Homo sapiens: one gene and its partners. The protein of the gene in region 4 interacts with the protein of the main gene of each other region in a pairwise test. Each region holds a gene or a part of one and is shown on either strand. Other genes may lie near its edges. The genes, in order: TNS2, RNF11, KRT34 and TENT5B.

Region 1 (4,844 bases), on a different chromosome or scaffold from region 4:
TGCCCAGCATATGGCCGTGTGCCTCATAGCTGTGGCTCTCCAGGAGAGGGCAGAGGGTATCCCAGCCCTGGTGCCCACTCCCCACGGGCTGGCTCCATTTCCCCGGGCAGCCCGCCCTATCCACAATCTAGGAAGCTGAGCTACGAGATCCCTACGGAGGAGGGAGGGGACAGGTACCCATTGCCTGGGCACCTGGCCTCAGCAGGACCTTTGGCATCTGCAGGTGAGGGGCACCAGAGTGCGGAGTGCCCAGGGCAGAGGAGGTTCTGGAAGATGGTGGGGAAGTCAAGGGGGAACAGGGTGAGAAACAGCTAAGCCAGACAGAAGAGCCCCATCCTGCTCACAGCCCACCTCTCCCCTTCACTGCAGAGTCGCTGGAGCCGGTGTCCTGGAGGGAGGGCCCCAGTGGGCACAGCACACTGCCTCGGTCTCCCCGAGATGCCCCATGCAGTGCTTCGTCAGAGTTGTCTGGTCCCTCCACGCCCCTGCACACCAGCAGTCCAGTCCAGGGCAAGGAAAGGTATGCAGAGGGGCCGGGGATGCTCGAGTGCTTTCTTGTCCAAGCAGTTGATGAAGGCAGGTGGGGTGGGAGCAGCCACAATGGGGGCTCTGCTGACCATCTGCCCTTCCACCCTACAGCACCCGGCGACAGGACACCAGGTCCCCCACCTCAGCGCCCACTCAGAGACTGAGTCCTGGCGAGGCCTTGCCCCCTGTTTCCCAGGCAGGCACCGGAAAGGCCCCTGAGCTGCCGTCGGGAAGTGGGCCTGAGCCTCTGGCCCCTAGCCCAGTCTCTCCGACCTTCCCTCCCAGCTCGCCCAGTGACTGGCCTCAGGAAAGGAGTCCAGGGGGCCACTCAGATGGCGCCAGTCCTCGGAGCCCTGTGCCCACCACACTTCCTGGCCTCCGCCACGCCCCCTGGCAAGGCCCTCGAGGCCCCCCCGACAGCCCAGATGGGTCTCCCCTCACTCCTGTGCCTTCCCAGATGCCCTGGCTTGTGGCCAGCCCAGAGCCGCCTCAGAGCTCACCTACACCTGCTTTCCCCCTGGCTGCCTCCTATGACACCAATGGCCTTAGCCAGCCCCCACTTCCTGAGAAACGCCACCTGCCCGGGCCGGGGCAACAGCCAGGACCCTGGGGCCCAGAGCAGGCATCATCGCCAGCCAGAGGCATCAGTCACCATGTCACCTTCGCACCTCTGCTCTCAGATAATGTCCCCCAAACCCCAGGTATAAAGGCCTTGAGGGGGTTGGTGCCACCTTGAGAGAACCCTTTCTCCTGGGATGTAGCATGGATGGGGACCCGGGTACCCTGGGGTCTGAACCTACTCCCTCCCTGTCCTAGAGCCTCCTACACAAGAGAGCCAAAGCAATGTCAAGTTTGTCCAGGATACATCCAAGTTCTGGTACAAGCCACACCTGTCCCGTGACCAAGGTGAGAAGCCAGCCTGCCCCCACCCCACTGCATCCCACCTTCCAGGGTGTCTGTCTTGGCTTTAAGTCCCATCCTGTTGAAGCTCTTGGCTCCTCCTGTCTGAGCTGTGTTTACTCTTGGCTGAGTGTTTACCAGCAGGTGATTCTGGGCTTTGGGCCAAGGCGGTGAGATCCAACATGGTCAAAACCCCTGTGAACTCTAGAGCCCTGGCCTCAGACTCTTACCGCCACCACAGCTGTCAGGGCAGAGACCATGGAGCTTGGCAGCAGAGGAGGGGGGCTGCATGGGGCTCAGTCCACCCCTGTGAAAACTCCTCCCCACTGCCCGCTACCCCTCACCCTGCAGCCATTGCCCTGCTGAAGGACAAGGACCCTGGGGCCTTCCTGATCAGGGACAGTCATTCATTCCAAGGAGCTTATGGGCTGGCCCTCAAGGTGGCCACACCGCCACCCAGTGCCCAGCCCTGGAAAGGTACAGAACACCCAAACCTGAGTGGGGTGGGGATGAAGTTGGGGGTGGTGCCAGAGGCAAGGTAACAGGGCAGGTGGGGGTGCTGTGCTGGCCATGCCGCTGTAGAGGGGAGAGGTAGGAAAAGACCTCAGCTGCTCGGGAAAGAATCCCATTAGGGAAGAAGCTGGAACCTGGAATCCTAAAGCCGCAATCTTCCCCTCGCCTCCTCTCAGGGGACCCCGTGGAACAGCTGGTCCGCCATTTCCTCATCGAGACTGGGCCCAAAGGGGTGAAGATCAAGGGCTGCCCCAGTGAGCCCTACTTTGGTGAGAAGCAGGAGCCTGGGGAAGGCTACGTTGGGTCGGTTTAGGGAGATGCCAAGGGATCTCAGGAGGATGGAAGGGAAAGGCGGGGCACCCTGGGCATCTCGGGACTTTCCTACCTCCTCTCCCACAGGCAGCCTGTCCGCCTTGGTCTCCCAGCACTCCATCTCCCCCATCTCCCTGCCCTGCTGCCTGCGCATTCCCAGCAAAGGTGAGTGTCTGGTCATCTGTCCTCCCCACCTCTCCCTACCCCCTGCAGCCAAAGCAGGATCCAGAGGTCTTGGCTCCCCGCCTTCCCTTGGGGAAGCAGAGGGAGTGCTCCAGCCTGGGGAACACTCTGCCTTCTGAGCTTCCCTGTCGGTTCTCATTGCCCTCAGATCCTCTGGAAGAGACCCCAGAGGCTCCAGTGCCCACCAACATGAGCACAGCGGCAGACCTCCTGCGTCAGGGTGCTGGTAGAGACTTCCCCTCCACTCCCCTCCCTCTCCCTGGGCACCAAGGGGGCATTGTGGATACAGGGCATGGGGCACTGAAAGGCCTTGAGGTGGGTGAGCCCTGGCCAACCCATGAGGGCAGGGGAGCCCCATACTGTCGGGGATGAGGAATTGGGTCCTCAGCCTAGGTTCTCAAAGTCTCATGAACAAGACGATCATGGGGTGGTAGCAGGGAGGCTTCTCTGCCTCGCTTCTGACTGTAGATCCAGTAGAGTCATGGAATCTGCCTTTTTAACAAGTCACCTATGTGATTGTAAAGCATGTGACAGCAGTAGCTGGGGAATGTGCAAGAGCTGGTGGGGGTGGCTAGGGGATGGGCACTCCCTCCCTGACCCACTCCCTGCCCCTGTAGCCTGCAGCGTGCTCTACTTGACCTCAGTGGAGACAGAGTCACTGACGGGCCCCCAAGCTGTGGCCCGGGCCAGCTCTGCAGCTCTGAGCTGTAGCCCCCGCCCGACACCAGCTGTTGTCCACTTCAAGGTGTCAGCCCAGGGCATTACACTGACGGACAACCAAAGGAAGTATGTATACTCAGCCCTGTAGAACCCCATGCTTAAGGCCCCTGGGGGCTCATGTTTCTGAGTGTGACCTTCCTCACCCTCCTCCTTGCAGGCTCTTCTTTCGCCGCCATTATCCAGTGAACAGCATCACCTTCTCCAGCACTGACCCTCAAGACCGGAGGTGACTCTCCCTCCAAACCCTTTGCCCCAAATCCCCATGGTCCCACCAGGTCCCAGCTCCCAGCCCCAGCCCCAGCCCCGGCCCCGGCCCCCCTTCAGCAGCTGTCCCCTGGGGTGTGCATCTTCACCTTCTTCTCCTTCTGCAGATGGACCAACCCAGACGGGACCACCTCCAAGTAAGCCTCCCCACGAATTCAGCCTCTTCCTTCCAAGGGACCAGGGCGCTGCTGTCCTCTCAATGCTGGCATTTGATTTGTCTCACCAAGGCCAGCTACATTCCCTTGTGGAAGGAATGTTAAGCCCCTTCCCCACCCTTTATCCCCCTAGGATCTTTGGTTTCGTGGCCAAGAAGCCGGGAAGCCCCTGGGAGAATGTGTGTCACCTCTTTGCAGAGCTTGACCCAGATCAGCCTGCTGGCGCCATTGTCACCTTCATCACCAAAGTTCTACTGGGCCAGAGAAAATGAAGGAAGGCCACAAGCTCAGAGCCCACATCAACACTGCCCCCCTCCCAGCACCCCACAGCCCTCACATCCCCTGGCCTGGACCCAGGAGACCCAGGAGAAAGCACCCTCCCTTAGGAATGAGGAGTGGGCATCAGGCCTGGGACACTGCTCTCCTTCCCCGCCCCCAGCCTGCTAAGTTAAGTGGACAGGCCCACAAGATGACCTTGCATGTGAGCAGATGGCAGAGATGGGTGTGTGAGGGGTGAGGAGGCATCAGCAGTTGAGCCCCGAAGGAGATCAGGCAGCCCCACCTGCAGGAGAACGTCAGCCCTCCAGGGGATCAGCCCCTGCCAGTTCCACCCAGCTGCAGGTGCCAGCACGGCAGGGATGGGAGAGGGGTGGGGAGCGAGTCACTGCCTCCTCTGAGCAGAGATTCAGAGTAGGATCACATGAATAGGGGAAAAAAGAGAGTCTATTTTTGTCTAATAATAAAGAATTTCTATAAACTTTAGCCGAAATTGGAGTCAACACTTATTCACAGGAAGGTCAAAGCCTCATCTCCCAGGGGACGTATCTGTGCTCAGGCCTGTAGCCAGGCCCATGGAACATATGATTCCCATCCCTGGCCCAACATTGGTCCACATCTCCCCATGAGCAAGCTGCCTTCGGCTGCCCCCATCCAGCAGTCCTGTTCCTAGCCCAGTGGACTAGAAAGGCTCCTGGTTCCGGCCATACTGATAAATACGGAAACTCCATCTTTATCGGCTGTATAAACATCTCTGGTCTGTACATACATTTCATACATCGTAGGGTGGGAAGCGAGGGCCAAAGGGAGGCCCAGCAGCACAACAGCTCACCCGCTTTCCCTACAGCCCTACCCGCTCTGTGCAAACCAAGGCCAACAGCTCCTGCTGCCTCTTCCTCCCTGGAAAAGTCACTGTTACGGGGAGGGGGCCAGGGGTTGAAGGATTAGAAGGAGATAGAGGGCTTGGTGGGGAGGACACATGTAAGTGCTAGA
Region 2 (7,029 bases), about 24 Mb from region 4:
TGTTGTTGTTGAGATGGAGTTTCACTCTTGTTGCCCAGGCTAGAGTGCAACAGCGCAACCTAGCCTCAACACAACCTCCACCTCCTGGGTTCAAGAGATTCTCCTGCCTCAGCCTCCCAAGTAGCTGGGATTACAGGCATGTGCCACCACACCCGGCTATTTTTGCATTTTTAGTAGAGACGGGGTTTCTCTATGTTGGTCAGGCTGGTCTCAAACTCCTAACCTCAGGTGACCCGCCCACCTCAGCCTCCCAAAGTACTGAGATTACAGGTGTGAGCCACTGTGCCTGGCCACCTGTCTTCTTTCTTGACTGTGTCTCAGCCAAGGTAAATTCTGCACATGAAGAGGGAAGTGATAAGAGGTTGATTGCAGATACAATCAGAATTAGAGATGTGTTGTATTTCTTTTCTTGCCTCAAGTCGTTTGCAAATATGTCTTTTATGTATTACCTTCCTTACTTCAGGTACAGAGTTAGGGATGTATTTCTGTCCTGTACTCATATGGGTTATTAAAAATAGGCTGTTGGTGTCCAGCCCAGTAGCTCACGCCTGTAATCTCAGCACTTTGGTAGGCCTAGGTGGGTGGATCACGAGGTCAGGAGTTAAGACCAGTCTGGCCAACATGGTGAAACCCCATCTCTACTAAAAATACAAAAAATTAGCCAGGTGTGGTGGTGCTTGCCTCTAATCCCAGCTACTCAGGAGGCTGAGGCATGAGAATCGCTTGAACCCAGGTGGCAGAAGTTGCAGTGGGCTGAGACTGCACCACTGCACTCCAGCCTGGGCGATGGAGTAAGACTCCATCTCCAAAAAAAAAGGCTGTTGGGTGGGCATGGTGGCTCACACTTGTAATCTCAGCACTTTGGGAGGCCGAGGTGGGTGGACTGCTTGAGTTCAGGAGTTTGAGACCAGCCTGGGCAATATAGTGAGACCCCGTCTCTACTAAAAATACAAAAAATAGCTGGGTGTGGTGGTATGCACCTGTGGTCCCAGCTATTCAGGAGACTGAGATGGGAGGACTGCTTGACCCGTCTCTACAAAAAATAAAAATTAGCCAGGCAAAGTGGTGCACGCCTATAGTCCCAGCTACTCAGGAGGCTGAGGTGGGAGGATGGCTTGGGCCCGTGAGGTTGAGGCTTCAGTGAGCCGTGACCATGCCACTACATTCAGCCTAGGCAACAGAGTAAGATTATGTCTCAAAGAAAGAAAAAGAATCCCAATCTACATAAGTATTTCTATTAAAACTTTTAAAGATCAAAATTCTGCAACAAAGGTTTCTACTATTACCTAAAAAATATTTTAAGAAAATCAAGTGCTCAGATCTTATGTACCAAGTAACTCACCATCCCATCTCCATCTTCTCAAGTTACCCTATAATTAGCTCTAGAATTAAACTCTGAACAGACTATCTTACTCTTAGTGATGCATACAATCTTAATGCCAAAAAATCAGCCTTTATTAAAGCACATTCAGAATGAGAGGTCAGGCAGAAACAAAGAAAAATCCTGCAACAATGGGGTCACACAAATAACAAATAACTGGTTACTTATTTATAAAAGTCACCTAGGCAAGCTGAACTTCATGGAACACAAAACCAAATTCAGGCTGGGCGCGGTGGCTCACGCTTGTAATCCCAGCACTTTGGGAGGCCGAGGCAGGAGGATCACAAGGTCAGGAGATCAAGACCACGGTGAAACCCCGTCCCTACTAAAAATACAAAAAATTAGCCAGGTGTGGTGGCGGGCACCTGTAGTCCCAGCTACTCGGGACAGGCTGAGGCAGGAGAATGGCGTGAACCCGGGAGGCGGAGCTTGCAGTGAGCTGAGATCGCGCCACTGCACTCCAGCCTGGGTGACACAGCGAGACTTCGTCTCAAACAAACAAACAAAAAAAAAAACAAATTCAAAAAATATATAATGAAATTAACTTTCCCAAAGCTCAACGTACTTTATAAATTAGAAGTGATAGGCCAAACACTAAAGCACAGGATTCTGGGAATGCTTAATAGACACTAACAACCATACAATTGCACACTCTTACAGCAAAATGCTGATCATTACATTCACTAAAGTATAAGTGCGTGCTTTGTGAAAATTGTAGTTCTAGCAATGTGAAAATGAACCAGACTTGAATTCTAAAAGAGCAGATGTGACACTGTCACAAATAATTAAAATTAAAAGGGTAAAGTGTCTTAAGAATGGTGCATGAATAAAGGAGTTCAGATTAAGAAAAGTGTATGTAGGAGAAATCAGAATTCGTGGATTCTTGGCATTTGAACTGGGCCCTGGATATTAGAAATGAGACTGGGAAGGATTAAGGAAGAACATTCTGGGCAATGGATACAGAATGGGCAAAGACAGGAAAGCAGAAGACATACATGGAATACAGCAAACTGCTCAGTATGACTGGAGTATACAGGTTGTATAAAAGAAAGCACAAGGCTATGAAGAGCTGAAAAAGTATATGTAGAGCCAAATCATGACTTTGAATGCTAAGTCAGATATCTTCAGTGGTTAGTCCTAATAAAGAATCATTAAGGGCCGGGCGTGGTGGCTCACGCCTGTAATCCCAGCTCTTACGGAGGCCAAGGTGAGTGGATTACCTGAGGTTAGGAGTTGCACACCAGCCTGAGCAATATGGTGAAACCCCATTTCTATTAAAAATACAAAAATTAGCTGGGTGTGGTGGCGCATGCCTGTAATCCCAGCTACTCGGGAGGCTGAGGCAGGAGAATTGCTCGGACCCGGGAGGCGGAGGCTGCAGTGAGCTGAGGTGGCACCACTGCACTCCAGCCTGGGCAACAGAGTGAAGACTCTGTTTCAAAAAATAATAATAATAATAATAACAATCATTAAGGATTATGAGGCAAGTGATCTGATCCGGGATGAAATTTATCTGGCAACATGGTATAAAATGAATGAGGAGGAGACATCAATTATGTTGCTGTAAGAACTGATGAGGACAATTATGATGGTGACCTTACAAGGTAAGAAGTCACAGTTCTAATTTAGTCTATCATCAAATATTCACTGGGTGTCTACAATATGGAAGGTAACATTCTACTCCACTAAGATATCTTACAAGTTTAATGTATCATTCTCATTCTTGAGGAAACTGATGTGGAGAAACAACTGTTAAAGCAACAAAAGCTAATAAGGCAATATATGATTTCCAGATAAATGTTACAAACACAAAAAAACTGTACATGACAAATCAGCAGAGACAGGAAAAAAATGGTCAGTGAAGGCTTTATTAACAAAGGTGGAGTTAGTTGATCTGCCCCTCAATAAGAAGGCTGAACTTCTTGAGCATAAAGAAGGGGAGGGATAAAACTTCAAAAAGGTAAATTGTTAAAAGCTGAATAATTGTATAATAAGGCCTAGATACGTGAAATAAATTTGGAGATATTTTCCACCCAAATGTTAAACAAAATGCTAATAAAAAAACACAACCCTTTAATTATCTAAATTTAACTTCGTAAGTTATCAGGAAAATGAGGCATTAATATACCATTACAGGCAGGGCACAGTGACTCACATCCGTAATCCCAACACTGGGAGACATGGTGGGAGGATCACTTGAGCCCAGGAGTTCGAAACTAGCCTGGGCAAAGTGAGACTCCATCTCTAAAAAAAACAAGCCCATCCCCCACAAAACATTATAGCATTGCATGCTTAAAAATAAGCAGTACATTCTAGATTTTTTATAAGGAAGGGGGTTATTTTTAGTGCATTCTACAGGATAAACCAATCCTTTTAACAACAAAAGAGGGTTTTTGGTTTTGTTTGTTTTTTGTTTTTGTTTGGTATTTTAATAGAGATGGGGGTCTCACTTTGTTGCCCAGGCTGGTCTCGAATTCCTGGGGTCAAGTGATCCTCCTGCCTCTGCCACCTAAGTGCTGGGATGACAGGTGTGAGCCACTGTGCCCAGCCAAAAAAAAAAAAAAAAAAAGGTATCTTGAAGAAAGCTTTATGCAGACACAATTTGAAATATCCAAAATGTTACATTTTCTTATTTGTCAAAAAAGCTCCCCAAAACAATCTGATAAATTCTTTCCTTTTTCATATTTTACATGTAAGCGGCAGAGCCAGAATTTGAACACAGGACAATCTGACTCTAAAAGCAGAGCTATACTTGCATTCAATGCTATACAAACTTATTTTCTCAGGATTTTAAAATTTCAAATGTATCAATCAAAAAGTATAGGTCGGGGAAGAAGACTGGCGAATCTCAAACTATATAACTACTGCAAAATTGAGAGACACCTATCCTTATTTTTATATATTCAGATTAGAAAATGTAACATGGTTTGTTGTTCAATGAATATTACACTCTTTTAACAAAGTGCCTCCCTCAATTTAGCACATAACAAAGCTCTTGACAGTGACACAGGGGTACCTCAAGCTGTTTTACATATGCCTTTCAGGGCTGGGCTGCCTACCTGGCCTCCCCCTCTCATGGACCTCCCTTCTTCAGCCTTTCCTGGCTTATCCTCCCACTCACTGTCCTTCCAAGATTGCCTTCGCTGGGCAGATTTCCTCTGTATTATTTTTAAACATTTAGGAATAAGGGAGTTGGGTAGAGGGTGCGACAAATTTGTTTCTACTTTCTAATTTGACAAACACCCTAAATCTCTTTGCATCCAATACTTCAAGAATAGGGATTCAAGTACTTTCTTTTTCTCCCCCAAGTACTTTCCCATTACATAAATATCTTGCGGTGATATATATACACGGTAAAAACCCCTAAATCACTTAACACTTAGTGTAAACCAATTGCTGTATTTAATATTACTGGAATTTGACTTTTTAGGATTCCTTAAAACTGATCTACAACAGCTAGACACGGTGGTGTAACCCTGTAGTCCCAGCTACTCAGGAGGCTGAAGCCACAAGATCCTTTGAGACCAGGAAGTGGAGGCTGCAATGCACTATAATTGCACCTGTGAATAGCTACTGCCCTCCAGCCTGGGCAACACAGCAAGACCTCATCTCTAAAGGAAATAAATTTTTTTTAAAACCTGAGCCAGGCAGAGTAGAAGTGCACCTGTAACCCTAGCTACTCAAGAGGCTGAGGCAGGAGTATCCCTTGAGCCCAGGAGTTTGAGACTAGCAACATAATGAGACCCTGTCTCTATTTTTTAAATTTAAAAAATATAAAGGGCAGGCTCAGGGGCTTACGCCTGTAATCCCAGCACTCTGGAAGGCCAAGGTGGGCAGATCACCTGAAGTCAGGAGTTTGAGACCAGCCTGGTCAACATGGCAAAACTCCATCTCTACCAAAAGTACAAAAATCAGTTGGCCTTGGTGGCGCATGCCTGTAGTACCAACTACTCCAGAGGCTGAGGCAGGAGAATCGCTTGAACCCAAGAGGCAGAGCCAAGATGACACCACTGCACTCTAGCTGGGCAACAAGGTGAGACTTGGTCTCAAAAAAGAGAAAACAAAAAAACCCAAACATATATATACAGAGAGAGACCAGCCTGGGTAACACAGGGAGGCCCAGTCACAAAACAAAAAAACAAACAAAAAAAAACCTGATCTACAATATAGAAGCAAAAATGGCACTAGGAATATGCAGAGTTCTTGTAAGCAGTGCAACTATACCTGCCTCAAATACATTAGTTCATTTAAAAGAAATCTATTCATTCGTTCAACCAAATTACTGAATGCCTAACATGTGCCAGGCACTGTTATAAGTACTTAGGAAACACCAATTAAAAAAAAAAATCCCCTTTCCTCCTTTCTACCTAGTGGGAGAAGACAGGTAATAGACAACGCAACTTTCTAACACATGTTGGAATGTAATAAATGGTATTGGGGGGGAAAACAACAGGGTGAGAGGGACTTCCAGGTTATTAGGGCAGGTTGCACTTTCAAACAGGGTGGTCAGAGAAGGTTTAAGGGGGCAGTGAGAAAAGACTTGAAGGAGGTAAGGGAGTCAGTCAGCCATGAAATCTGGGGAAGAGTATTCCAGAATAAGGAGGACAAAGGTCCTAGAATAGCAATGAGGACAGGGAAGCTGGAGGGAAGCCAACAAAGGGGTTAGCTGTAGGTGTCAAGGGACATGCGTGGAAACAAGGGGTACAGATTATGTAGGGTTTATGCGACACTATAAGGAATCTGATTTTTACTTTGAATGAAACAAGGATCCACACAGAGGGTTGGGGAGACTGTCATGCTCAGTTTTACCAAAATAACTGTGGCTGTTGTATTGAGGACAGGCCTTAGCGAGGACAAGGGTGAAAGCAGGGATAACTGTTAGGAGGCTACAAAAGAAACCATGGAAAGAAATATACACTTCCTACAAACTTGGATCATAATGGTGCAGGGATTTACTTTAAGGCAAAAATAAATAAAAACAAATTTGTCAGATGTTAATAGGAAATAACTGTAACTGGCTCTTGTCATTATATGTACATTGTACATATAAAGCAGCAAACAATGACATCTTTTAACTACTCACCTCAAGAGAACATGTTCCTTTACAATCAGCTATTCACTGTTAATTACATATAATTTGTTGAAAAAGTTACTTTTATCAACTGAGAATACTATAAATCTGCTGTGTGAGGTAGCTAACGCCTGTAATCCCAGTCTTTGGGAGGCTGAGGGAGGAGGATCACCTGAAGCCAGGAGTTTGAGGCTGCCAAGTGAGCAATCCAGTCTAACCTGGATGACAGAGGGAGATTCTCAACTCAAATAAATGAATAAATAACCTTGGATTGCTGTTTCTCAGATCATCTAAAATAACCATTCCTAAGACAGATCTTATTTCTTTGGGGGTGGGGGACAATACTTTTTCTCCAAAAGTTTCTTTTTATGCTCCCATGTTTTAAAGTAATTTTCTTCTGATTGATACTGAATTTGTATATTAGTCTGCGTCATTCACTTCAGGAAACTGCAACCATAAAAAACTCCCACTGTCAAAAATATAACATTTCCAAAAAAAGTTCCTTCATGACACCAAAAACCCCTCATCCCTCATCATCACCTAGTTCTTCTGGAAAAGGCAAACACAGTTTCCATAA
Region 3 (7,691 bases), on a different chromosome or scaffold from region 4:
ACAAAAACAAAATAACCATAATTAAAGATGCTCTGCAAGGCCAGAAGAACAATACACAAAGTGAGAATTTTCAACAAAAAGGCAGAAAATACAAAAAGTACCAAACAGAAATCATGCTGCTGAAAAATACAATAACTGAATTGAAAAATTCAATAGAGGGATTCAATAGCACACTAAATCAAGCAGGAGATAGGATCAGTGAACTCAAAGTCAGGCCATTGGAAATTATCCAGAGGAACAAAAAGAAAAAAGAATAAAAAAGAGTAAAGAAAGCTTAAGAGATGTATGGGACATCATCAGGCAGACCAACATTCACATTAGGAAGATCCAGAAGGAGAAGAGAGAGAGAAAGTTTAGAAAACTTATTAAAAAAAATAATGGCTCAAAACTCCTGAAACCTGAGAAAGAACATTGACATCCAGATCCAGGAAGCCCAGTGTATCCCAAATAAGATGTTCAGATAAATCAAAGTGATACACATTATAATTGAATTGTCAGAAGTCAAAGACAAATAGGGAATTTTGAAAGCAGCAAGAGAAAAGTGACATCATGTACAAGGGAACCTCCATAAGGTAATTAATACATTTCTTAGCAGAAACTTTGCAGGCCGGAAGGACATGGGATAATATATTTAAAGTGCTGAAAACAAACCAACCAACCAACAAACAAACTGCCAACCAAGAATATCATTCCCAGTACAATTATCCTTCAAAACTGAAGGAGAGATACAGACTTTTATAGATAAACAAAAGCTGAGGTAGTTCATCATCGCTGGACCTGCCTTACAAAAAATGTTAAAGGAAGTTCTTTAAGTTGGAACAAAAGGATGTTAAACAGTAATATAAATGCATGTGAAAGTATAAAACTTGCTGGTAAATGTAAATATACTGATAAATATAGACTACTGTAATACTATAATGGTGGTAGGTAAATCACTCTTTTAATTCTACTATAAAATTTATTTATTTATTTATTTATTTATTTATTTATTTATTTATTTATTTATTTTTGAGACAGAGTTTCACTCTTGTCACCCAGGCTGGTATGCAGTGGTGTGATCTTGGCTCACTGCAACCTCCGCCTCCCGGGTTCAAGCGATTCTCCTGTCTCAGCCTCCTGAGTAGCTGGGATTATAGGTGCCTGCCACCACGCCCAGCTAATATTTATATTTTTAGTACAGACAGAGTTTCTCCATGTTGGCCAGGATGTTCTCGAACTCCTGACCTCAGGTGATCTGCCCTCCTCAGCCTCCAAAAGTGCTGGGATTATAGGTGTGAGCCACCACACTTGGCCCTCTACTATAAAATTTAAAAGATAAAAGTATTAAAAATAACTATAACTATAAAAATAGGTTAATGCATATGCAATATAACAAGATGTAAATAATGACATCAATACATAAAAGATGTGTGTGGGAGAAGCAAAAGAGTAGTTTTTGTATGCAGTGAAAGTTATCAGCTGAAAACAGACAGTTATAAGTTGTTTCATATAAGCCCTATGATGATCACAAAAAAATACCTATAGAAGATACACAAAAGAAAAAGAAAAAAGAATAAAAACATATCGATACAAAAATCCATGCAACACAAAGGAAGACAGCAAGATAGGAAAAGAGAGACAAAAGAACTCTGAGAAAGACAAAAGAATTAACAAAATGGCAATATTAGTCTTTCCCTATCAATAATTTATTGAAATGTAAATGAATTAAACTCTCCAATCAAAAGACATGGAGTAGCTGAATGGATTTTCAAAAAACCAACAAGTACTATCTACATACTATCTAGAAGAGACTGACTTTAGATTTAAAGACAATGTATAGGCTGAAAGTGAAGGAATGGGAAAAAAAATATTCCGTACAAATGGTAACCAAAAGACAGCAGGATGGCTGTACTTATATATCAGACAAAATAGTCTTTAAGTCAAAAATTGTCACAAAAGGCAAAGAAGAACATTATATAATAATGAAAAAATTCACCAGGAAGATATAACAATTGCACACATATATGAACCCAACATCAGAGCACCTAATATATATATAACAAACATTGACAGAACCAAAGGGAGAAATGGACAATGCAATAATAGAAGAATTCAGTAACTCACTTTTGATAATGAATAGAACATTCAGATAGAAAATCAACAAGGAAACAACAGATTTGAGCAATACTATAGAACAAATGGACCTAACAAATAACACGTTCTATCCAATGGTAGCAGAATGCATATTCTCCAGTGCATGCGGAACATTGTCCAGGATAGATCATATGTTGGGTCACAAAACAAGTCTTAACGAATTTAAGAGGATTGAAATCATACTAAGTATCTTTTCCTACCACAATGGAATGAAACTAGAAAACTAGAACGGAAATAAGAAAAAAACTGAAAAATACACAAATATGTAGAAATTAAAAAACATTTAAATAATCAATGGGTCAAAGAAGAAATCAAAAAGGAAATTAGAAAATATCTTGAGACAAATGAAAATGAGAACACAACGTATCAAAATTTATGGGATGCAGCAAAAGCAGTACTAAGAGGAAAGTTTTATATATGTATATACATAAACCTATATCTAAACATACACACACGCCTACCATGTACCTACAAAAATTAAAAAATTAAAAAAGATAAAGAACAAACTAAGCTCAAAGTTAGCAGCAGGAAGGATATAATAACACTTTTTGCTCTAAATTTTATTATGATACTTACGATAAAACTTAGAGCAGAAATAAATAAAAATAGAGACTAGAAAAACAATAGCAAAAAATCAATGAAACAGAGTTTTTTTGAAAGACACAGAAAATTTACAAACCTCTAGATAGACTAAGAAAAAAAGAGGAAACACTCAAATAAATAAAATCGAAGATGTGCTTTTCTGCTCCTCTCATGCTGCTTTTGAAATTCAGATGCAGCCTTCTTTAAATGATTTGTATTGTGTTCCACAAATAATCTTTTGGGACTTCTTTCTGAAACATGACTTTGTTTCCCTGCGGAACAAAGGCAAGGTAGAGTGACAGGGAAAAGAAGTGAGGTAGGGAAGGCTATTCTGTGAAGAGTGATTATTGGGCAATAGAGAGGCTCCCTAGGTTATGCAAGAGTCAAAGGGTAACTGGATCCCAGAGGTGATAGAAGCACACTTATCAGAGACAGTGTCTACTTGTAGGGACAACAGAGTAAATCTGCATTCTCATGGGCACTGTGGCTTGTCCTGGAAGCATCTCAGGCTGGCATAGTCATACCTCTAGGAGAGTTAATACTCTAGAAAGAGGAACAAGTCTAGAAATAAGATGATAGAAATTTCCAGAGAATTTGAGAAAAAGCCACCATGGATACAAAGATACCTCTGAGCACCCTTGCTCCAATTTTCGTTTCTTGGTGAGTCTGCAGTATTATGCTTCATATTCATGCTTCAGTGCTGCCATCTGAACTCTCACTGCTCCAGACTGTTTCCAGCATATTTTTTCTTCTAGATATTTCTACTCTTGCTCATCTTTAGAGAGGCTGTTGCTTTAGTACAAGTTGGCAAATTTTTTAATTTTAGGGCTTTGTGGACACTATAGTCTCTGTCACAACTACACAACTCTGCCACTGTAGCACAAAAGCAGCCATATACAATAGCTAAACAAATGGGCATGGCTGTGTTCCATTAAAACTTTATTTACTGCCGGACGCATTGGCTCACGCCTGTAATCCCAGCACTTTGGGAGGCCGAGGCGGGCGGATCACGAGTTCAGGAGTTCAAGAGCAGCCTGGCCAACATGGTGAAACCCCATTTCTGCTAAAAACACAAAAATTAGCCGGGTGTGGTGGCGGGCACCTGTAATCCCAGCTACTCGGGGGGCTGAGGCAGATAATTGCTTGAACCCGGGAGGTGGAGGTTGCAGTGAGCCGAGATCGTGCCACTGCACTCCAGCCTGGGCGACAGAGTGAGACTCTGTCTCAAAAAAAAAAAAACAGAAAACAAACAAACAAAAACTTTATTTACAAAAATTCAGCAGGGTAAACTTGACGTGTGGGCTGCCATTTGCAGATGCCCTCTTTTAGGTATACTCCCATCCATTCCATTGGTTTCCATTTTACTTTCTCATTTCTCAACCATGAACATGCCATTGTTTTCAGTTGCTCCATGTGTTGGCAAGTTCCCTAAACCCCAACGAATAGTAAGGCTCAGGATCATTTCGGCGAATACAGGTTGAGTTTCTGCTATAAAAACAAATTGAATGCTGAAACATGGATGAATGTGGGAGGAAAGAGCTACTTGGAAGAGTAACTCTCAAAGCTCTCTCTCAGAGCTCTCTCTCTGGGGAGAAAGAACAGTGGCGGAAACTCCTGGGTGAGGAATCCCTGATTCCCAAACAACTCCACCCCATGTCCCTGGCTGTCCTCCCCTCTGAGTAATGCAGACAGCCTTTTGGGGCTGTGATGATTCTATCTCCTATGAAGCCATCTGATGAAACTCTGATTTCACCAACCACTAGCACCCAGGAAGAGCCTGGTGTGACATAAGCTGAATGGAATAATTTTATGGGTTGAGGGGGGACTCTTTAGAAGCATCTAACTAGCATATTTTGGAGAAAAATTAGCTGAAGCATTAGGAAAGGAAACTATGCTGTATGCCAAGCCCCCACCCACAATTAATGGTATAAAAGGACTGCAGAGGAAGGAGAGACTCAAACCTGCCCACATCCACCTCCAGCAGCTTACCTGCTTTTCCATTACCTGTTCCAGCACCATGTCTTACAGTTGTTGCCTGCCCAGCCTGGGCTGCCGCACCAGCTGCTCCTCCCGGCCCTGCGTGCCCCCCAGCTGCCACGGCTACACCCTGCCTGGGGCCTGCAACATCCCCGCCAATGTGAGCAACTGCAACTGGTTCTGTGAGGGCTCCTTCAATGGCAGCGAGAAGGAGACTATGCAGTTCCTGAACGACCGCCTGGCCAGCTACCTGGAGAAGGTGCGTCAGCTGGAGCGGGACAACGCGGAGCTGGAGAAACTCATCCAGGAGCGGTCCCAGCAGCAGGAGCCCTTGCTGTGCCCCAGCTACCAGTCCTACTTCAAGACCATTGAGGAGCTCCAGCAGAAGGTGAGGGGGTTGGCCATATGGGGGGCCAGCAGCAGCTGGCTCTCTTTGAACAGTAAGACATTTTCAAGTTCAAGTGTACCTCATGAGAGAAATTTCTTTTCAGATTCTGTGTGCCAAGGCTGAGAATGCCAGGCTGGTGGTGAACATTGACAATGCCAAGCTGGCCTCTGACGACTTCAGAAGCAAGTATGTTGAACTTCAAGGTCCCTATGGTTCTTTCATGGCCCTAGGGACCTACTATTGCCTGGAAGAGAGGAGAAAGCCATTTCTCTCTATTTCTCCTCCTAGGGCTGGTTATGTAAAATTAGTTTCAAATAGGGAACTAGACTCATGTGCTGCCTGCTCTTTGGTCTATACTGGTTTTTTTTGGAAGTGTTTCTTAAACCACAAAATTCAGAGATTGAAATGAATTGTTCTTTGGGAATTGATTTGGTGGTATATTAGCTAACAAAACCGAGAACACAGTGAGAGACTTCATCTCATGTGTGCCTGTGGGCTCCTCGTGGTGTTAGGTGAGTCAGGGAACCTCTTCAGCCTATCCATGGACAGCTTGACTGAAGCATATGGAAGAGAAGAGGCAGAAAACTGTAAGTTCAAGAAGATTCAGGCCAATTCTACCCAAACAACACATGAGAGGGGAAGGTGGTTTTCTTTCCTGACTTATCCTCCCACTCCGACACGTGCAGGTACCAGACGGAGCAGTCCCTGAGGCTGTTGGTGGAGTCGGACATCAACAGCATACGCAGGATCCTGGATGAGCTGACCCTCTGCAAGTCTGACCTGGAGTCCCAGGTGGAGTCCCTGAGGGAGGAGCTGATCTGCTTGAAGAAGAACCATGAGGAGGTATGAAACAAATTCACAAAAGCAGGCCTCAGAACTAAGCTACTAGCACTGGGAATCAGGAGAGGATTACTGTCTGGATCCCTGGTCTGGGACCCTTCTCTGAGGAACTCAAGATGTTCTCAGAGAGTGACGGTGCTACATCCATATCAAGGAGTGGAGTGAGCTGCTCATTCTTCAGCGGCTGGGTGAGGGTTAGGCAGGTGTTGGAATTACTGAGGAGGGACATCATTCATTGAGCCCTGCTCTCTGCTGATCACTGCTAGGTCCTGAATTTGGTGGTGGAGATGGAGGGACAAAAAAGAAATAAGACATGGCCCTTTTCTTAAAAGAGCTCACAGTCTAGTATAGAAAGACAGTCATATAAACACAGTGATATAAACAAGACAGAGTGAAACAAGTACCATATGAGATGTACAAGCAGTATGCTCTAGAAATAATCCAGGCTGCCCAAGAGGAGATAGGGAACTCTTCTCAGATGCAAAGAGGAGGATTCCAGTACTTGGGTGTTTCAGTCTGAGGGAAGAGGTTGAACAAAGACACAGAAGTGGCAGGGCAGGGTGTATCTGGGTATGGCTGGGCATGCAGTACCTCCAAGGGATGAAAGTGAAGATGTGATGGGAAGCGAGGAAGGACTTGCATATGCCAAGGAGTTTAGACTTAGTCTTGTAGAAGGTGTGAGGTTGTTTCCGTTTCTATGGGACAACAATTGACGTGATCCCTGTTGGAGTTTATTGCTATAAAATGTGTGTGTCACTCTTTGGGAATGATCAGAATCTTCCTTTTAGTGCTTTTTTTTTTTTGACGGAGTCATGCTCTGTCACCAGGCTGGAGTGCAGTGGCGTGATCTAGGCTCACTGTAACATCCGACTCCCTGGTTCAAGTGATTCACTTGCCTCAGCCTCCTGAGTAGCTGGGATTACAGGCACATGCCACCACGCCCAGCTAATTTTTGTATTGTTAGTAGAGATGGGGTTTCACCATGTTGGCTAGGATGGTTTCGATCTCCTGACTTCGTGATCCACCTGCCTCTGCCTCCCAAAGTGCTGGGATTACAGGCTTGAGCCACTGTGCCCGGCCCCTTTTAGTGCTTTCTGGGCAGCATCAAGCTCATTTTCCCAGAGCAGGAAGATGGCACATCTTCCATGGGACAGCAATTGATGTGATCCCTGTTGGAGTTTATTGCTATAAAATGTGTGTGTCACTCTTTGGGAATGATCAGAATATTCCTTTTAGTGCTTTTTGGGCAGTATTGTGCTCATTTCCCTGGAGCAGGAAAATGGCAGATCCATTGCCGTAGGTTCATTGTTTCCCTTTTCTCCAACAGGAGGTTAACACCCTGCGCTCCCAGCTTGGAGACCGCCTCAACGTGGAGGTGGACACTGCCCCCACTGTGGACCTGAACCAGGTCCTGAACGAGACCAGGAGTCAGTATGAGGCTCTGGTGGAAATTAACCGCAGGGAAGTGGAGCAATGGTTCGCCACGCAGGTGGGCATCTAAGCACATGGCCACTCAGGACCCGAGGTGCCCCAGGGCCCTGGAGACAGGGTCTGATCCTTTCCCCACTTGGGTGTTTCAGACCGAGGAGCTGAACAAGCAGGTGGTATCCAGCTCAGAGCAGCTGCAGTCCTGCCAGGCGGAGATCATCGAGCTGAGACGCACAGTCAACGCCCTGGAGATCGAGCTGCAGGCCCAGCACAACCTGGTGTGTATTGTTCAGACCTGCTGGTGAGCGATGGGAACTTGGGAGGCAGAGTCCCGGGGATGTGC
Region 4 (7,235 bases):
AGCCAGTCGCTGTTGTCTCCTTCCCAGGTGTGACTACAGCCAGTTTGGCAGACGGTCACCAGATACCACCACACCCAAGTACTGCAGGGCAGCTTGGTGCCTCCTGAATCAGACTTTCCAGCCATGGAGGGGGCAGTGGCTGCACCCTCCTTTCTCCCATGCCAAGGCCCTCCCCACAACCACTCTGCTCCAGGCTGCTGCTGAGACCTGCAGGGAGACTGACAGACGCCGTCAGCCAGCAGGCTTACAAAACTCACATGCTCTGCCGCCTGATGCAGGCCCTCTGGCTGCAGCTGGAGAAATCAGATTGTCTAGTTCAATCCTCTGGGCCCAGAGAAGGCAAAGGACTTGTCCAAGGTTACACAACCAATAAAAGGCCTCCCTGCCTGTAGCTCTGGGAAGGCTCCTTACAGTAGGGTGAGTCCCTTTAGTACAGGTACAAGCAAGAACAGAATCTCTAGCCACTCAGATTGCCACTACAGGCAAAGCCTTGCAGGGGGGTAGAGGGAGAAAGGTTCCAATTTTTGAGCCATAGGACAACTCAGCAGCAGTGAAAAGCCCCAAGGCAACAACCGACACCACCCTCCCCCTCTCCCCGCCCCCATCCCTGCACACATCCCAACAGCTTTAGAAGCTGCCAGCTGTGGATTTCTTCCAAGAAACTTTCTTCGCTGTGGAGGCAGCTGTACAGACCAGGTGAAGGCACCTGTCCCCTTTGGAGTCTGGAACCAGAGAGGGTGTTGGAGAGCAGCAGCCTAATCTATCCATCCCAGTTGAACAGATGGGGACACTGAGCCCAGCAAAGAGAATTGACAACAAACAGTCCAGGGCCTGAATCCAGAAGTCCAACTTCCCAGCCCAGCTCTGAAGTCTCTGCTGCCCTTCCTCACCATCGCCGACAGCTCCCTGTTCTGTGCTATCTCTGACCCAGGTCTAGAAGGACATGGCACCACCATTGCATTGTAAAGTTAGCTTCTATTGACCTGGAGTCTCCCCCATCTGGCTAGGAGCACCTGAAGGGATGGAGGCTGAGTCCTAGTCACATCTGTGCCCTTGGTTTCCTAAACAGGGCTTGGCACAGAGCAGACACCAAGAGGCAATCTGAGCCATACTGACAGGGCAAGGACTTCTCCTCCTTCCAGGGTATCCCTTGTTCTTGCAGAGGGGGGCTGCCACACTGGGCTCCACCTTCCCCTCCCTGCCATGCCTGGGGCCACAATCCTGGAGGTGCAGCAGCTGGGGCCCCAGGAATGACTTGACTGTCCCGGGGATTAAAGCCTCGACTGGTTTCCTAATCACCCAGGTGACAGCGAGCAGCCGAGGAATGCCTCGGCGAACTCCACTGGGCCGCGTGTGAGTCAGCCAAGGAGAATCTGCCCCCGCCCCCTCCAGTTCCTAGTTCCTTGGGAGGGTGGGGGAGGTAATCCCCCAGCAGGCAACCCTCCCCCTCTGTGGGAAGCCAAGGTAGTAGGAGGCAGGGGAAAGGCCTACTTCATCCAAAGGAAGCCATCAGTTGGCAGGAACGCACAGGAGTCCTCGCTGGGTTTCTTGGTTTCTTTTATCAAAGGACCCTCCCTAACACCTAGAAGTTGACCTTGGGAGCCGGGGAAGGGGTGGGAAAACATTGAACCTACTGTAATCTGCTCCTGGGAAGACCCAAAATTCCCTAGGTTTGATTTTCACCTCATTAAGTAATCTTGGGTGGCAAACTGCCCCAGCTATAAAATGGGTACAATAATGACCACACTGTGGTATTTCAGAACATGACAGCGTCTGGGCTGTACAGATGAAAAAGCAGTCTTGGGGTCGTTGAGGTTCAGATAAAGGGAAGAGTTGGAGGAGGGAGGGGCTGTCAGAATTCTCTTCTCCCTTTCCTCAGGAGAGAGAGGACGTGGGGCCTGAGGCCTGGGTTGGCCTTCATTTCCAATCTTGGGAAGGAGAAGAAACACCTAAATTGGTCACTTAATGTTGCCCTTGGGGGTGGGGTATCAGGTCTGACCTTCGGCTTAATAAATATTGGGCCACAACCCCAGCTGAGAGAGAGGGAGTCCCTGACAAGTTTTCTTGGCTTTTCCACGGGGTGGAGGGGGAAGGGGGGGTTTCTCCAGCAAAAGGCTGTAGGAGCACAATGGCAGAGGCTGCTCCTAGAACCTCGAGAGAGGAAAGGAGGGTGAGGTCCAGGGATGCCCAGATAGGGAAGGAAAAGCTATTTTGGACTCAAGCATGCACACTTACCCACCCAGGGCCACCTGGCGTCTTTTGTCCTTGCAGGCAGAGACAAATTCTTCCCCCAATGCCCTTGACATCCTCCTCCCCTCTCCCAGCCAGGCCCTGGGTGAGTGATCCGTGGGGAATCAGGGTTCTCCAAGAGTCGAGATGGAAAAGCCAGGTGGGGAAGGATTAGTAGATGCAGGGGGAGGTCTGGTCTACCATTCATAATGCTGTGCAATTGTTACAGCCATGTCCCCGTTCCTCAGTTTCCCTAGCTGTCTAGAAAGTCAAACAGACTACAAATGCCTTCCAGCCACGAGAGCCTCAGAAGGGATTCCCCCACATCCCCCGCCTGGCGTCCTCTCACCTGCACGATCTGCCGGGGCTGCACGCTCAGCGTGGGGAAGTTGCCGCGCCCGTGAATGGGAATCGGCTCGCTCAGAAGAGCGTCCAGTCGCTTCACCTGTGGCCAGCTCAGCCCACTCAGGTGCCGTCCGGGGAAGGCCGATAAGGCCTCCGGGTCGGGGCCGCCGCCTGCCGGGGCTGCCGTGGCCACCGCCGTGGCCGCAGCCGTCCCCACCTGAGCAGCCGCCCGGTCCCTGCGCTCAGCTCCGCTCTCCGACGGCATCATCCGCCCGGCCCCCGGGCCCCGACGGCAGAAACCGTGGGGGTGGTTAAGGGGAGGAGGACAGGGAGAGCGGCTGGGCAGGGGCCAAGGCGGGGGGCACGAAGGCAGGGACGGGGCGGCAACGACGGCGAGACAAAGCCAGGGAACACCTCAGACGGCGACGACTAACCGACCCTAGCGCCTGCAGCCCGCGGCCCAGCGGACTCTTATAGGCCGCGGGCGACGTGCCCATTGGTCCGGGCCGCTGCCAACAGCGAGAGCCGCCCCGCCTCTGAACGCTCCGGACACTGGTCTGTAGAGCTTTGCACGTGAGTCACTGTTCTCTAGGGAGATTCCGATTGGCTAGAGGGCACGCCCCTGCCCCGCCCTCCTTCTCAGGCTGAATTCCCTCCTTTGGTCCTTAAAGAACTTCTGTTCACTGTGATTGGCCCGGGCCTGGACTTAAAGGGACAGCGCCCACCCCGCCCCGCCAGGGTCAGGAGGGAGGGAAGTGACCTGCGGAGTTTGTAGCAGAGTCAGACCACTGAGAAATTCCAGGTTTCTGTTTTTTTTTTTTAGCGCTGGAAGAAATTGAGAAGTCACCTAGCCTTGTCCTGCTATTTTCAGAAGCCCAAAGAGATTGAGCCACGTGATCAACTCTGCACAGCACTGCTCATGCTCTGGCAGTTTTCCAGAGCCTAGGAAAGGTATAATAAACAACTCTGGGCCCGGCGCGGTGGCTCACGCCTGTAATCCCAGCACTTTGGGAGGCCGAGGTGGGCGGATGACAAGGTCAGGAGATCGAGACCATCCTGGCTAACACGGTGAAACCCCGTCTTTACTAAAAATACAAAAAATTAGCCGGGTGTGTGGCGGGCGCCTGTAGTCCCAGCTACTCGGGAGGCTGAGGCAGGAGAATGGCGTGAACCCGGGAGGCGGAGCTTGCAGTGAGCCGAGATTGCGCCACTGCACCCCAGCCTGGGCGACAGAGCGAGACTCCGCCTCAAAAAAAAAAAAATTAATAATAATAATAAACTCTGCATACCAAGGTAAAGGCCTTTTTTTTTTTTTTTTTTTTTTTTTTTCTCGAGACAGAGTCTCGCTTTGTCACCCAGGCTGGAGTGTAGTGGCGCGATCTTGGCTTACCGCAAGCTCCGCCTCCCGGGTTCAAGCAATTCTCCTGCCTCAGCCTCCCGATTAGCTGGGATTACAGGCATGCGCCACCAAGCCCGGCTAATTTTTTTGTGTTTTTAGTAGACACGGGGGTTTCACCATATTGGCCAGGCTGGTCTTGAACTCCTGACCTTGTGATCCACCCACCTCGACCCCCAAAGTGCTGGGATTACAGGCGTGAGCCACTGTGCCCGGCCCTAAAGTAAAGGCTTTCTAAGACACTGTTGATTGGCCTCGCAAACCACAGCATGATGAGCGTTGATGTACAGCATAGCCAATTTAGGGAAGGAGAGATCTGCTCAGAGAGGCTTTGTGATTACCCGACTGTCACACAGCAAACTAGTAAGGCCCTGGTCCTCAACCAGGGCTATAGAATCTGTGGTGCATGTTTTTTCCACTGTACCTATGCAGACCCAGCTCCTTTCTGGAGCTAGAGAACGAATAATGTGTTTACATGTTTTTCTGCAGGTCTAGACAAAACATAATTTAAAAAAAATATGTTTACATGTTTTGCTCTCACACTTTACAGGACCTAGGGGATGAGGCTTATGATTGTCGTTACTTTTATTTTTTATTTTTATCTATTTATTTATTTTTTGAGAGAGGGTCTCACTCTGTTGCCTGGACTGGAGTTGACTGTCATGATCATGGCTCACCACAGCCTCAACCACCCTGGCTCAAGCAATCCTCCCAATCCCAGCCTCCTGAGTAGCTAGGACTACAGGCACACGCCACAGCACCCAGCTAATTTTTCTGTTTTTTTTTTTTTTTTTGTAGAGATAAGGGTCTGGCCATGTTGCCCAGGCTGGTCTTGAACTCCTGGGCTCAAGTGATCTGCCCACTTCAGCCTCCTGAAGTGCAGGGATTACAGGTGTCAACTACTGTGCCTGGCCTGTTATTACTTTTATTTTTCCCCAACCTCACCTGTTGCTTTTAATTTTTTTTTCTGATTTTAAACATGTGCTGTAGCAAAAATTCAGAAATTGAGTCTATCTGATTCATTGCTGCAATTTTTTTTCTTAAATATTGTTCTCCTGACCAGGCACGGTGGCTCACGCCTGTAATCCCAGCACTTTGGGAGGCTGAGGCAGGCAGATCACCTGAGGTCAAGAGTTTGAGACCAGCCTGGCTAACATGGTGAAACCCCATTTCTACTAAAAATACAAAAAATTAGCTGGGCGTGGTGGTAGGCACCTGTAGCACCTGTATTCCCAACTACTCGGGAGGCTGAGGCAGGAGAATCGCTTGAACCTGGGAGGCGGAGATTGCAGTGAGCCGAGATCTGTGCCATTGCACTCCAGCCTAGGCAACAATAGTTATACTCTCTCTCTCTCAAAAAAAAGTTCTCCTAACAATATATTAAATTAAATTTCATTCTCGTAATATTCTCCCATTCGCCTGTCAGGCAGGTTGGGAAGGAGTAATACACCAAATTTACAGGAGAAATCATGACCTAGAAACAGTAAACTACATCCCAATGCCATCAGGTTGACTCTGACAGACCTGGAACTAAAACCCAGGAGCCTGACTCTCACAACAGAGCAGCCACTTCCTCTTTCTGGAGGCGAGCCCAGGCAAGAGGCTGCCCATCTCGCTTCACTCCATCTTGTCTAGGATCAGGGGCTTCCTCTGGCCCTCAGGGAGGGGACACACTACTTGTGCTACTGCTTGACCACGTGACCTTGGGGAAGTCCCTTTCATCATCCTCAAGGCAAGTGCCTGCTTTGTTTTACCTTTTCTTGAAAGCTAAGAAATGGAGGGGACCAGTGGTTCATGCCTGTAAGACCAGGGAGACCTCATCTCTACATAAAAACATAGGGAGACCTCATCTCTATATAAAAATTTTAAAAAGGCCAGGTGCGGTTGTTCACTCCTGTAATCTCACCACTTTGGGAGGCTGAAGCAGGCGGATCATAAGGTCAGGAGTTCAAGACCAGCCTGACCAATATGGTGAAACCCTGTCTCTACTAAAAATACAAAAAATTAGCCGGGTGTGGTGGCACGTGCCTGTAGTCCCAGCTACTTGGGAGGCTGAGGCAGGAGAATTGCTTGAACCCAGGAGGCGGAAGTTCCAGTAAGCTGAGATCGTGCCACTGCACTCCAGCCTGGGCGACAGAGCAAGACTCCATCTCAAAATAAATAAATAAATAAAAATAAATTAAAAAAAAAAAGATAGCAGCCGGAAGTGGTAGCTCATGCCTGTAATCCCCGCACTTTGGGAGGCTGAGGTGGGAAAGTCATCTGAGACCAGGAGTTTGAGACCAGCCTTCATAGCGAGACCTCATCTCTACAAAAATTAAAAGAAAGTAGCCTGGCATGGTGGCACGTGCCTGTGGTCCCAGCTAGTTGGGAGGCTGAAGTGGGAGAATCGCTTGAGGTGGGGAGGTCAAGCCTGCAGTGAGCCATGTTTACACCACTGCACTCCAGCCTGGGTGACAAAAAGAGACCCTGTCTCAGAAAAGAAAAGAAATAGATAGAAATCGCCTTTGGCTGAGTCCAGAGTCTCCAAACCCTTGAACTACCAAGTCTCTCTGAGGCTACTGATGAAAGAGCTTGAGGCTCAGCCACAGCACTGTCTCTTACCCCCACCTCCATACCCCAGCAGAGGAAGGAGGTGTGGGGAAAGGAAACTAACATTTACTGAACACCTACTATGCACTAGATTATTTTACATACATAAGCTCTAATTCCTAAAGATACACCGCAAGATGTGGGATCATTATCCCCAATTTACAGATGAAGACACTGAGGTTTAGAGAGGTTAAGTGATATGCCCAAGGTTATACAGTCACTAATTGGCAGTTTGGAACTCAAATCCAGGTCTCCTGACCCCAGAGCCCTATTGTTCAACTGCTCCTCTAAGAAGACTCAGCACAGATCAGTCATGCTTGGCACAGTCCTGGCACCACCCACAAGATCTATACATTCATTCATTCATCAGCCAACATACATACTGAGCACCTATCTGTGTACCAGGTGCTGGGCTGGGCCCTGAGAAATAATAGGCAAGGTCCCTGCCCTTCTAGAACTTTTTTCTTTTTTTGAGACAGAGCCTCACTGTGTTGCCAGGCTGGAGCACAGTGGCACAATCTCAGCTCACTGCAACCTCCACCTCCCAGGTTCAAATGATTCTCCTGCCTCAGCCTCCCAAGTACCTGGGATTACAGGCCCACACCTGGCTAATTTTTGTATTTTTAGTAAAGGGTTTCACCATGTTGTCCAGGCTGGTTTCGAACTCCCGATC

The links.
Region 1: the proteins of TENT5B (region 4) and TNS2 interact in binary tests that used the Homo sapiens proteins (3 or more experiments, as listed by UniProt).
Region 2: the proteins of TENT5B (region 4) and RNF11 interact in binary tests that used the Homo sapiens proteins (3 or more experiments, as listed by UniProt).
Region 3: the proteins of TENT5B (region 4) and KRT34 interact in binary tests that used the Homo sapiens proteins (3 or more experiments, as listed by UniProt).

The regions. Positions count from the first base shown.
Region 1 is NC_000012.12:53,060,036-53,064,879, forward strand, and holds the end of TNS2 (tensin-2), read left to right. Parts: coding exon 1-223; intron 224-369; coding exon 370-520; intron 521-639; coding exon 640-1,229; intron 1,230-1,344; coding exon 1,345-1,434; intron 1,435-1,779; coding exon 1,780-1,905; intron 1,906-2,117; coding exon 2,118-2,210; intron 2,211-2,340; coding exon 2,341-2,418; intron 2,419-2,584; coding exon 2,585-2,662; intron 2,663-3,053; coding exon 3,054-3,222; intron 3,223-3,313; coding exon 3,314-3,382; intron 3,383-3,527; coding exon 3,528-3,557; intron 3,558-3,708; coding exon 3,709-3,847; 3' UTR 3,848-4,344; downstream 4,345-4,844. UniProt on the Homo sapiens protein: Tyrosine-protein phosphatase which regulates cell motility, proliferation and muscle-response to insulin. Phosphatase activity is mediated by binding to phosphatidylinositol-3,4,5-triphosphate (PtdIns(3,4,5)P3) via the SH2 domain.
Region 2 is NC_000001.11:51,239,247-51,246,275, reverse strand, and holds part of RNF11 (RING finger protein 11), read right to left. Parts: intron 1-7,029. UniProt on the Homo sapiens protein: Essential component of a ubiquitin-editing protein complex, comprising also TNFAIP3, ITCH and TAX1BP1, that ensures the transient nature of inflammatory signaling pathways. Promotes the association of TNFAIP3 to RIPK1 after TNF stimulation.
Region 3 is NC_000017.11:41,379,288-41,386,978, reverse strand, and holds the start of KRT34 (keratin, type I cuticular Ha4), read left to right. Parts: upstream 1-4,672; 5' UTR 4,673-4,728; coding exon of another isoform or gene 4,729-4,732; coding exon 4,733-5,080; intron 5,081-5,183; coding exon 5,184-5,266; intron 5,267-5,766; coding exon 5,767-5,923; intron 5,924-7,247; coding exon 7,248-7,409; intron 7,410-7,500; coding exon 7,501-7,626; intron 7,627-7,691.
Region 4 is NC_000001.11:27,009,829-27,017,063, forward strand, and holds the start of TENT5B (terminal nucleotidyltransferase 5B), read right to left. Parts: upstream 3,023-7,235; 5' UTR 2,843-3,022; coding exon 2,579-2,842; intron 1-2,578. UniProt on the Homo sapiens protein: Catalyzes the transfer of one adenosine molecule from an ATP to an mRNA poly(A) tail bearing a 3'-OH terminal group in an ATP hydrolysis-dependent manner.